Linked DNA regions of Homo sapiens: region 1 is linked to region 2. The links come from fine-mapping of genetic effects on gene expression. Tissue or cell type: esophagus muscle. Region 2 holds a variant in brackets; the other region holds the start of a gene. All regions are shown on one strand. Distances are from middle to middle. Region 1 holds the start of SCN7A (sodium voltage-gated channel alpha subunit 7). Region 2 overlaps SCN7A (sodium voltage-gated channel alpha subunit 7).

The links. PIP is the estimated chance that this variant, and not a neighbour inherited with it, causes the effect.
Region 1: it holds the start of SCN7A, and the variant in region 2 is the best candidate, but not a certain one, in a credible set for the expression of SCN7A in esophagus muscle (GTEx, PIP 0.63).

The regions. Positions count from the first base shown.
Region 1 is chr2:166,490,887-166,496,280 of GRCh38, forward strand. SCN7A (sodium voltage-gated channel alpha subunit 7) reads right to left here and starts at 3,363. Exons shown (of 26, transcript NM_002976.4): 1 at 3,082-3,363.
Region 2 is chr2:166,426,275-166,431,668 of GRCh38, forward strand. SCN7A (sodium voltage-gated channel alpha subunit 7) reads right to left here. Exons shown (of 26, transcript NM_002976.4): 17 at 2,895-3,000; 18 at 1,514-1,668. Among named protein-coding and RNA genes, the nearest start is that of SCN9A, 53 kb to the left of the region's middle. The variant A/G (reference allele first, on the strand shown) is at 3,260.

The DNA of each region.
Region 1 (5,394 bases), 65 kb after region 2:
AGAAACTAGAAAGGTGCCTTGAAACATCTTAGGGTGAGCATGATTTAGTTTTTGTCTCACTCTGAGTTGGGCAAAAAATGTCCAACATGGAGCCCCAGGGCCAGAGAAAGAGAGTAGATATGGGCAAGAGCCTGTAATCAAGTGCTTAGACCATGTCGCCTCTGGGAGAACTCAGAGAGTGAGCAGCTGGTGGACTGGAAGCCTCACCTTAGCATTTAAAATAGGAAAGACAGACTACTCTACTCAGCACAATATATTCACCTAGGGTCTATGGCCCCCAAATCAGCATCACCTCCTGTTCTAGTTTAACACCAAATGCCCTATCATAATATCAGACCTTTCTAATCATAATTTCCATGAGTGGGGCCCCAGCTTCTGCATTTCTATCAAGCTCTTTGATGTCTAGGCAGTCAGTGTGGCACCTGACCCACACCATCATCAGAGCCGTCCATTGAGCTGGTTATCCTTGTCCAGCACCAGGCTGAGTCAATCCAATTATAAATACTGCAGAGACAACAGGGATATCTGTTTGCTAGGAATTTCAGGATGGAATATAAGAAGATGGCGCCTCATTTGTAATAAACAATAATTGAACAAATGAATGTAAAATAATAATCTTAGCTGGGTCAAGAGATATGCACCAACTCAAAAATAACCTCTGAAGCCCTCAGATGAAATCTTATCTTTAACTTCAAAGGCTCCTTCTTTCAATGTTGCTGCAATGAGACCTCACTTGTCTGGTTGGTTAGTCCTCACTAACAGAAGAGAAGGAACCAACGCAGGAAAAGAAAAGTGACATCTGTTTGTACAAGATTTTCTCATGTGATAATGGGTGACTGTGCATTGCTGATATCTGGAGTGGGGGTGGGGGTGGGCAGAGGTTATAGATGTTCTTCTCACACTGACAAATACTGAAAATGGTTAGTGGAAATAATGGGATCAGACTCCCAGAAATCAAGAATGTCCCTTTTACCCAATGCCTCCACCATAAGCTTTCAGGAGGGAGTCTAAGGCAGTAGGTAGATGGTGAGTCAATCTCTGAATACCCCAGTTGTGACACGTATCTCAACCCAATGAGATCTAGGGCTGGAGTGCAGATTTCCCAATCCCTGAGTAAGGGATTGGGGAAAATACTGTTATTTTTATTTCTAGTATGCTTTGGACAGGTATTTATCCTACTTTGGGAAAATCAGTGAGAGTGTATATCCGCTACCAAACCATCTACCACACGAGGCTACGGAGACAGAATGCCCAGTTTTGAAGTGCTTGGCTCTGCCTCCAGTACTCCAGTAGAGACTGATATGCAGCAGCAGGTCCAACGGTCGTGTGCCATCTGGGATCTGATGACCCCTTTTCCTGAGCCCATGTACAAATTGAGTTCTTTCTTCTATTACTTTAAACATATCCATGGGAAAGAAGGGACTCACAGTACCTATCCCCCAGGTGCAAGATTTTAATGAATCTTTGCAGTCAAGATTAGAGTATTTATGCCTAAATTTTGATTTCTCCTATGTTAAGTAACGGGCCAAATACATTCAGCAATATCCAATATACGTGATGGCTTCATCCCCAGGAAACAGGACTACAGACCTAAAATCAATTTTAAAACTAAAAACAGAAAGAGGGTAAAGCATATTTGGAGAATATTACAAGGTTTAAATATGCAAAGCTAGCCAAAGCACACACTTTTCACTTTTTTGAGGATAAAGGCTTTCAGATTAGAATATGCTTTAAACTGTACAGGTGGCAAGAAAAGGATTTGAATTTCACTTCCTCTAGTGCATTCTAGAGATGCATGTCAAAGCCCTCTGTATGCTTATATTGAATCAGACTTAGAAGGAAAATCAGAATAGTGAAGTAGATAAAAACACAGAATAATCCCTTATGTAATCAACAGTTACACATATGGTACTTTCATAAACCCTTTATATCATCTCTGTCAATTAGTTTTTGTCAGGACTTTTTGGAGTGTCATTTATAAATAAAGAAAATAAAGCTTACTCAAGTTAAATAATTGGCTTAATTTGTACAAAAATTGAAATCAAGTTTTGTAGTTCTAAATCCCAAAGACTTGTTCATTGGACTTCCCGCTCAATTACTGATTTGCCAGGTAGCCTCAGCAAATTACTCCTTATAGGTCTTACTTGTAAAAACAGCAGCTGGATTATAGAATCTTTAATTAAGGCTAGTCATAGCAGGTATGGTGCCCAGGATTCTGTTTATTACAGGGCCCACTTTCCTTCTACTTTGCCATAAATTGCTCTCCTGAATGAACAGCAGTGGGGTAAAGTATCCACAAGAAGCACCACCCAAACTCTTTCCCATTTCAAGATATTTTTCAGTCCAATATCCAAACTGGAACCCATCATTTTCGTTAATGAAAGGGGCCCATCGGTGTGTCATTCCACATGCACTCATCATTTGTCTTGTTTTGACCAATGTTCTAAGTTTTGAAGCTAACACAACCAGTCACACTATCACTTCTAAAAGAAAACCTCCAGAAGAGATGCATTTTATAGAGCAAAACAATGCAAAAACAACAACAACAATCTCTGTTGATCTAGTCAATACCAAAATGCCCAACTGACTAAACTGAGCACACCACTGCCAATCACATCAATGCCTCTACTTTTATACTATCTATTCCTTTGGGAAAATCAATCTTGAAATCTCTGTTATTTAGAATAAGAGATAGGATTCTTAGAAGAAGTGTACAACAATCTGCATAACCTTTCCTCCATTTTATACTATCATTGTACCATGTAATGTAAGTCATTGTCATATAGGGTTTCTAGAATTTTACACTAACAGAGAATGTTGGTTTCAGAAGCTTACCTGATGGAATTAGAAAACTGACGGCACATGCCATGCAAACACCCACAGACCACGGCTGCTCTTGAAGTATACTCTTGAAGTAACTCTCCTAATGCACGTCCACAATTTCAAATCTCTGTCCTCCTGCTGGGGACCCTAAGGGTGTGTATGGGATGGGGCAGGTGGGAGTGGATGGGAAAGGCTGGCAGCGGATAGCGGCTATCACCATTCTGGGACTGGACACAGCAGCAAGAAAAAGGCACTTACTTGCTACGAAGCGACAGGTCTCCACCAGTGCCTGAGGGACCCTTCAGGAGCAGGGCTCCTTGGAGCCCTTTCCTCCTCCTGGGCTTCTCTTTCTCCACGGATCTCTCGGGTTTTCTGAGCTCTAGTTGTACAGAAGCTGCTGTTAGGCTGGCGTCTGTCCTCACCAGCTGTGGCTCTGCAGTAAATGGGCCCCACTAAATGGCCAGTTAGACACCGACTCACTGGGGCGACTCTCCAGCCACTGACCCAGAGACCCCTCCTACCCAGATGTCCAGTGGAGCCGCGCCCGCTGCTTGGAAGCTGTTTTTGTCTCCTTTCCACTCCTCCCTCCCCTCTCCCAGCCACTCCACTCTCTCCCCCGCCCTAATCTCCAGGCCAGTGAGCGACTTCAGCATCCAGATCGGGCGTGGGCGGGTGATATTGACAGAGACCTGCTGCAGATGCAGTAACAGCAGCAGCTGTGGCGTCTCCTCCAGCAGCTGCCGGGAAGGGAGGGAGGAAGAGGAGCGGGGGGCTGATGAGGAGGGGTAGAGGGGAGAGGGCCTGCAGAGCGTGAAGGAATGAAGGGGCTAGGGAACATCCAAGGAGGAGAGGAAAAGGAGCAGCGCGGTGCAGCTGAGGGGGAAGGGAGAGTGAAAATGAGGGAGAGGAGAGGAAGACAGAAAACTCTGGTTCTTTAACCTCCAGTTGTATTCTCTCTCCCCTTGCCTAGGTGCCCCAGCAGAACTTAGAGGGGCAATTGTCAGCCTGCAGCATTCAAATCTGGACATTGCTGTAATTAAGAGTTTGTAATCCTGTTGTTGTGTGAGTATGTGTGTAGCTGTTTTTAGGAGAGTCAAGAGTCAGCTGGAGCTGGCTTTTACTCTGGATCAGTTTCCCACTCTAGTGATTTGAAACACGAGGGACAGAGGAAAAATTATGTTTATTTTAGAAAACTGCGGCAATACAGTGTAGTTTGGGAGTGAAGGCCAGAGGGGTTGCACCTTCTTCCCAAAGGCCACACCATAGAACCTTCATTTTGTAACCCTATTTTATGCACACATCACATCACTTACTTCAAAAATATATCAGCATATGTCTCTGAATGGTAAGAACTTAAGATTTTAACTCAATACCCTGATCACATCTATAATTAGCAATAATTATTTTGTAGCATCAAACATTCACTTGATTTCTTTATAATGGACAATTGACTGACTGCAGGCTTCTCTTCTCCACACTCTGGTGATGATGCAAATGAATTTTCTAGAGCATAAAACCTTCCCTTAGAGCAGTCTGACACATATATCCCTTTTCACCCAGTAAAATTCTACACACCTTTCTGTACATTCAAACACAATATAAATTTAATGAACTTAATATCAAATATTTCAAAGTTTCCATGTGATATTTAAAATAAATAAAAAGAAGTACTGCTTTTTATAATGTGTAATGAACAGGCAGTTGATCCCAAGATATTGTACAAACCAATCACATAAATGAGAGGCAAATAGATGGGAAACTAATGGTGTTGGTTTTATATTCTGAGTTAGCTAGCCATTTTCTTGTTTTGGAACAAATATTTGTTTTGGGACAAATATTTGGCACTACGGTTATATAACGGTTATGTAATATTACCAGGTTGGATCTGAAAAGTTTTGGCAATTATCGTGCCCCTAATAATGAGCTGAGGATCCTTCCTCCCCCACTGAGTTTCTCAGCAGGAGGAACTACATAGTGGAGGGTCTGTTTTCAACATTTCTGCCTTAAGAACTTTATAAGCATATTTCTAAACTCTACTTTCTAAGTATGTATTCAGTAGGTGGGAGCTCTAGACCCCACATACTCTTCTGTGTCAGGAGAGAAGCTGGCTGTATCACACTACACTTGAACTCGATACGCCACTGTGGGCATTAGCTTCCTTTCAGTCTGTTTAAATGGGAGCTGTTTATTGTGACCTCAGAGATGTCAGTGTCAGAAGTGTGGATGGACTCGATGTTTTAATTCTCAAAAAAGTCTCTACATCCAGAGTTGACAAAACCCTGTATAAAAAGACAAGCAAACAACTCTCCCAAAACACACTCAAACAAACCCAAAACTCTTTCTTTGGAGATATGTTCTCCAGTTTCATCATCTTTTTCTACCTGGCTACATGGTAGCCATTATGTTCTGCCTTTATGGACACTCTTATTTATTAAGAATTTATTCTGTGGTTGACAGTCTTTCCCTCCATTCAAACTCTTGCTTTCCTTCTTAAAAACTTTCTCATCCATTTGAATACCAACAACTATTTGGATGAAGCATCCAACAGCCTAACTTCTGATTTCATCCTTA
Region 2 (5,394 bases):
ATTTGAGCCATGTGAAGATCCATGATGCTAGCAGAATCTGTGATGGAGAAAGGCGTAGTATGGAGTATCTGGCAAGCCCCCTAGCGGGTATTTGTGTTTCCCATTCTCTCAACCTTAGGATAGGTGGACTCTGGGGTCTTTGCTCCCAGAATAGGGCATTAGGAGACATAGTATGTCTCCTACTAAAATTCAAGCTTAGATGTCATTTGCTTAATTTTTGATTTCTTGTACCAGTCAACTAGTAAGAAAGAAAGAAGTTACCATACCAGCAAGGATAATTGACTCTGATCATTATGAGGAAGTGGGATGCTGTAACAAAATGAGAGGAAGAAGAAATACAAAAGTAACACACAGTTTGAATCTATTTTTATTAAGTCTGAAATGGATAAAACTAATCTATGGCAGTTGAAGTCCACATGCTGGCTACCCTTGTGGAGTAGGGAAGTAACTGAGGGGTAAGAGTGTTGTTCTGGCATCCTGGTAAATGTTCTGTTTCTCAATCTAAGTCACAAACGTGCATTCACATTGTGAAAATCATTCCTGCTGCACACCCATGGAGAGTTTTCAATATGTGTGGTAAATAACACAAAATTTATTTAAAAATATAGGCAGTGCAAAGTCCAGTTCACAACCATGACTCCATCTTCTGTGTTCTGTGCACCTCACAGTTAACTAGATCTTGTATGTAAGAATTCTCCTTAAAAGATCTCTGATCTTCTTTAATCAAATACAAACAAATACCAATATACATTCTATTTTTATTCCTTTCCTATATAAAAGGCAGAGTGCCATACACTTTATTCTACACCGTTCTTTTTCCACTTATTACTACATCTTGATGAATTGTAAATATGCACATAGCTTCTGAATTTTTAAAATAGCTGCACAGAGTTCCATTGGATGATTTTTCATAGTATAAAGTCAGCTATTACAGACCTTCTTTTCTAACCCTTTGCTATTATTACAAAACATTCTTCAGTGAATTACCTTGTAGAACCATTTAATGTGCAGATATTTGTAGAATATTTTTAGAATTAAGATTCTGAGCGCAGAGTTAAGATTGTAGGGTCAAATACATTTGTAGTTCACAGACCCTTTAAAGCATATGCAATAGTTCCCTTTCCTTTGATAGGTACCAAAGTACAAGCATATTATAGCAGTTTTGGATGTGCAAATCATTAAAATGTTTCATACATGAAAATTCATTAAAATCAGAAGAATCCGGTATCTATTCACATTCCATTTCCCACTGTCACTCATATATTTTGGAATTCAATATTGCAAAATAATATATTAAAAATCAATATTAAATTTAATATTGAATGATGCATATATAAACTTTCTAAGAAAGTATATTATTTAGATTTTAAATCACAGATTATGAAATTTGGTGCTATTTGGTGCTATACTAAATATCCTTGGAAATGTAATCCTGGTTTTGACTTTCTGAATTAACAGAATCATGATACATTTGTCCCCAGCAAAGTATCAAACACCCTGGCTGCCCACTTACCAGAGTGCCAGTGCTGAGCAGAGTAACAAGCCCAATAAAACACTTAAACCAATTGTTCTCTACAATCTTGCAGCAGGTTTTCCTGATGTTCTGCCAGATTTTTCCTTTCTTGGATGCTCCACTGATTTGACCAAGTGAAGATCCGCGTCTGCAACCTGTCAAGATTGAATTGGTAAGAACAACAATCTAGAAAACTCATGAAAAAGTAAACAACTGAAACTTTCTACTATGTGCCACAGCAATTATTTATTTACAAATTCTAATCCAGGTTGTCTCTGATTTATAAACATTTAATTTTTACCCATGGTGTAGTGACCACTGTAATCCCTGAGCAGGAAAAGGAAAACTGGACTTAGGAGTTCGGTAGTAATGAAAGAAAGGCATTGTGAAAGGCAGAAATGACCTACAACATGTTGTCACTCTGCAAAACAGTCTGAGAATAGGTATTCACTAATAGCACAAAAGAAAATACACACAAATATCTCATTTCTGAATGTTACATTTTGATATAATGCCTGAAAATTTACTCTTTGAAGATTCACATGGTATAACATGCATTCCTGTTTAAAAATATAAATACTTATGAGATGTTAAGAGGCATAAAATTAGTTAAATCAAATTAATTGCTTTGATTCCAGTTCTTAGGTGGCATGAAAATGGGAATTTTTATTGAGACTATTACGGAAGTAACATGGACTGTGGAGTACTTTGTGGGTAGAGTACATGTGTACGGGGCTGCACTCTGCGCTCTGGCCAAAAGGGTTAGCAAAATGGAAACCTGAGGCTGGAGAAGAGGTTGATATACAGGTGACAAAACAAAGAAATGGAGGTAGGTGGAGTTTAAAGCCAAAACATTTTATTTTGGAATTTTGTCTTGTGTTAAATTATACTATGAGTAGTATTGTGGCAGTGGAATATTATTAATAATGGTGATTCCAAAACACATTTTTCATGCTGTGAGTAATATTGGGTAAAGATACATAATGTTCATATTTGATTTTATACTAGTAGCTATACCACTGTGTGCTTTAGAACAGAGCACAATTTAGGAGTAAAACAGAAAATCAGTATAGTTAAAGCAGCACTGAGATGTTTGTGTATACACATACACATGCACACATATACCTATATATGTTGAAGTCAAATGAAGTGTTCTTAGATCTCATGAAATAGGGCCAATATTTAAGTTACTCATATAAAAATGGCCTATAACTGTCAGAGGAAAACAAGTTGTAATGGTGACACTTGTACATTTAACATGAATATTAAGAAATGTATAAAGATTCAGTCAATTGACTGACATACTGGATATGGAACATATACATTTTGACAACTTATAATTCAAATTAGTTTCCTAGCAAGATTAACAAAATTTTCTTACCATTTTTCAGATGCTTTGATCTTTCACCTCCATAGAACATTTCTTCTTCTTCAGAGATAGCAATATCAACAGTACTGCATTCAGATGAGCTAGATTGCTTTATTTTCTAAAAGGTGAAGTCCCACCAAAAAAGTTGTGATTAAAGTTTCATTTACCCATGGTGGCCAAAGTTTATTTCATTTTCAGAAGTAAGAAAAATTTTGTACAGAAATAATATTATTAGGTTTAAAAGACTTAAGGCCAATTTCATGACTGAGATTAAAATGCGTACATATTGGTAAGAGTTGAAGTTTAAAAAAATATTGTATGATACTTACTTTAAGCTAAAATAACATTTAGATTAAAATTCATGTTTAGTTTATAAC[A/G]CTTTGCTTCTTAAAGATGTATAGGCTGTCTCCAATTCACAAAAGGATTGGGGTTCCAAAGTTTTCTTGGAGTAAGTCACAAGTTTCCCATATATGCTATTTCAATTAGATGAGTAGAATCAGAACAAATCATCCCTTGATGCTAAAGATGGGTAGATAATAGTGCACCTAGGTTTCATTGTAAAATTCAGTCCAGATGGTCTTATGTATGTCATCACAGGATGGGATTTATCATGAAGTAAAATGAGGGAAAGGCACAAGAAATAGGGACAAGAACAGGCCTGGGAAAGGGGCACAGCCTTATGAAAAGCACCCAGATGCAGAATTGACCTTCTTTCTAACTCTGCTTTTGACTGAAGTTCAAGGCTGGGTAGAATAAGGTGGTCATTGCTTTACATAGGTAATAGTGCTAATGATACTCTTTGCCTTTATTTAAAATTATTTTCTCACAATACTTTATTTTACCTTATTTTAAAATAAGGATACCGTAAATCATTCTTTAAAATCACCAAGATCTAAGGTTAATAGCATATAAGTAATATTTTCTAATTAAAACAAAAATTAAGGCAAGCGCATTTTAACATTTGGAATGAAACCAATCTTATTTCATAAAAATTAAGAAAAAAATCTAGGTAGACGGCCAAAAAACCAGAGAAATTGTCAATATTTTGTCCTACCTCTTAGACTTATACACAGTAAGTGTCAAGGAAATATAATTAGAAAGCTTTTTTTGCTTTAGTTCTTACGTGGTCAGTTGTCAGTAAATCATTATAGTGCTCAAATAAAAAAAGTAAAGTATCCAGCAGAATATTATTCTTACACAGATATTTTTATTTCCATTACTTTTATATATTCTTTATTTATTTCTAATGAAATAAAATCTGTAGCAATATATTTATTTGAGACTAGGCATTAAGTAATTTAAACATAATATTTGACAGTAATTAAAATTATACATCATAAATTTATATTTTTAAAGAGTTGTAAAAAGCCTTGTACATATCCTATTTGATGTGATTTTTCCAAAATACCGGTGAGTAGGTATTTTTCTAATTTTACAAATAAATCAATTAAGACTCAAATTATAAATCATTTATTTTGATAAAAGATTATTTAATGGCATAAAGTGACCATGATATACTTCTGCATTACAAAAAATACAAGTTACAAAACACGATGTAAATTTTGATGTTATTTTTATAATATGTAAATATATATGCATATTTTTAATAAAAATAGGCTGGAAGTACAAATAGCAAAGAAACAAGACAGTGTATCTCTGAATTATCAGATCATTTATAATATTTTTGTGTTTTATTTTTGGCTGTGGGTATATCAATATCCTAAGTAGTCATGGGCTACATAATCTAGAAAGCATCTAACTAAATATGTAACTAAATATATAAATAAATGAATACATCTTTTGTGAGTAGTTAATCAACCAGCAAGACCAAATAACTATGCAGCATAAATAAAAACTGCAATTTCAATATTTACAGTTATTTTAAGTTACAGCTTTCCTATGTATTTTCATACTCCAGAATTTCTAAGGAGATTAGCATGAAGTTTTCAGGGACACTCCAACATGCTGTGCTGTGGTAAATAGCAATTTCACCCAGAAATGGATAGTAATCCAAATCTTTAACGAAGATTGAGAAGTGTGCTGAGTAAGAATTTATGCCTGTTTTATAGCAATGGTATTAATTTAAAAGGTAAATGAATCTTAGACTATTGGGCATGTGGATTAAAAATGTCTCTCTAACTAAAATAAAGATGGCTTTAGTAGGTGATGGAAGGACCTTGGATAATTGAAACTGAATTCCTCTTAGAAGACAATTTGTGAAGTTATTGTAGAGAGCATCTGCCAAAACAGAAGAGGTCTGGGAGACAAGATGGTGCCACAGATGATGGGGACCTGTAAAGACACATTCCCCGACCCTCCAGTGCCCCTGAGTGATCTGAAATGATTCCCTAGTGGGGTCCAAGGTAAAAAGCCCTTGTGCAGATGTGATCTCTGTAGGTGTAGCTTTCTATGAAGTTACACCTCCTTCTAAAACACAAGCTGCTTGCAAATGGAGACAATAAGACTGTTTCCAGTAGGGTGTATATTTTAGAAGCTAAGTGAACAGCAGTAT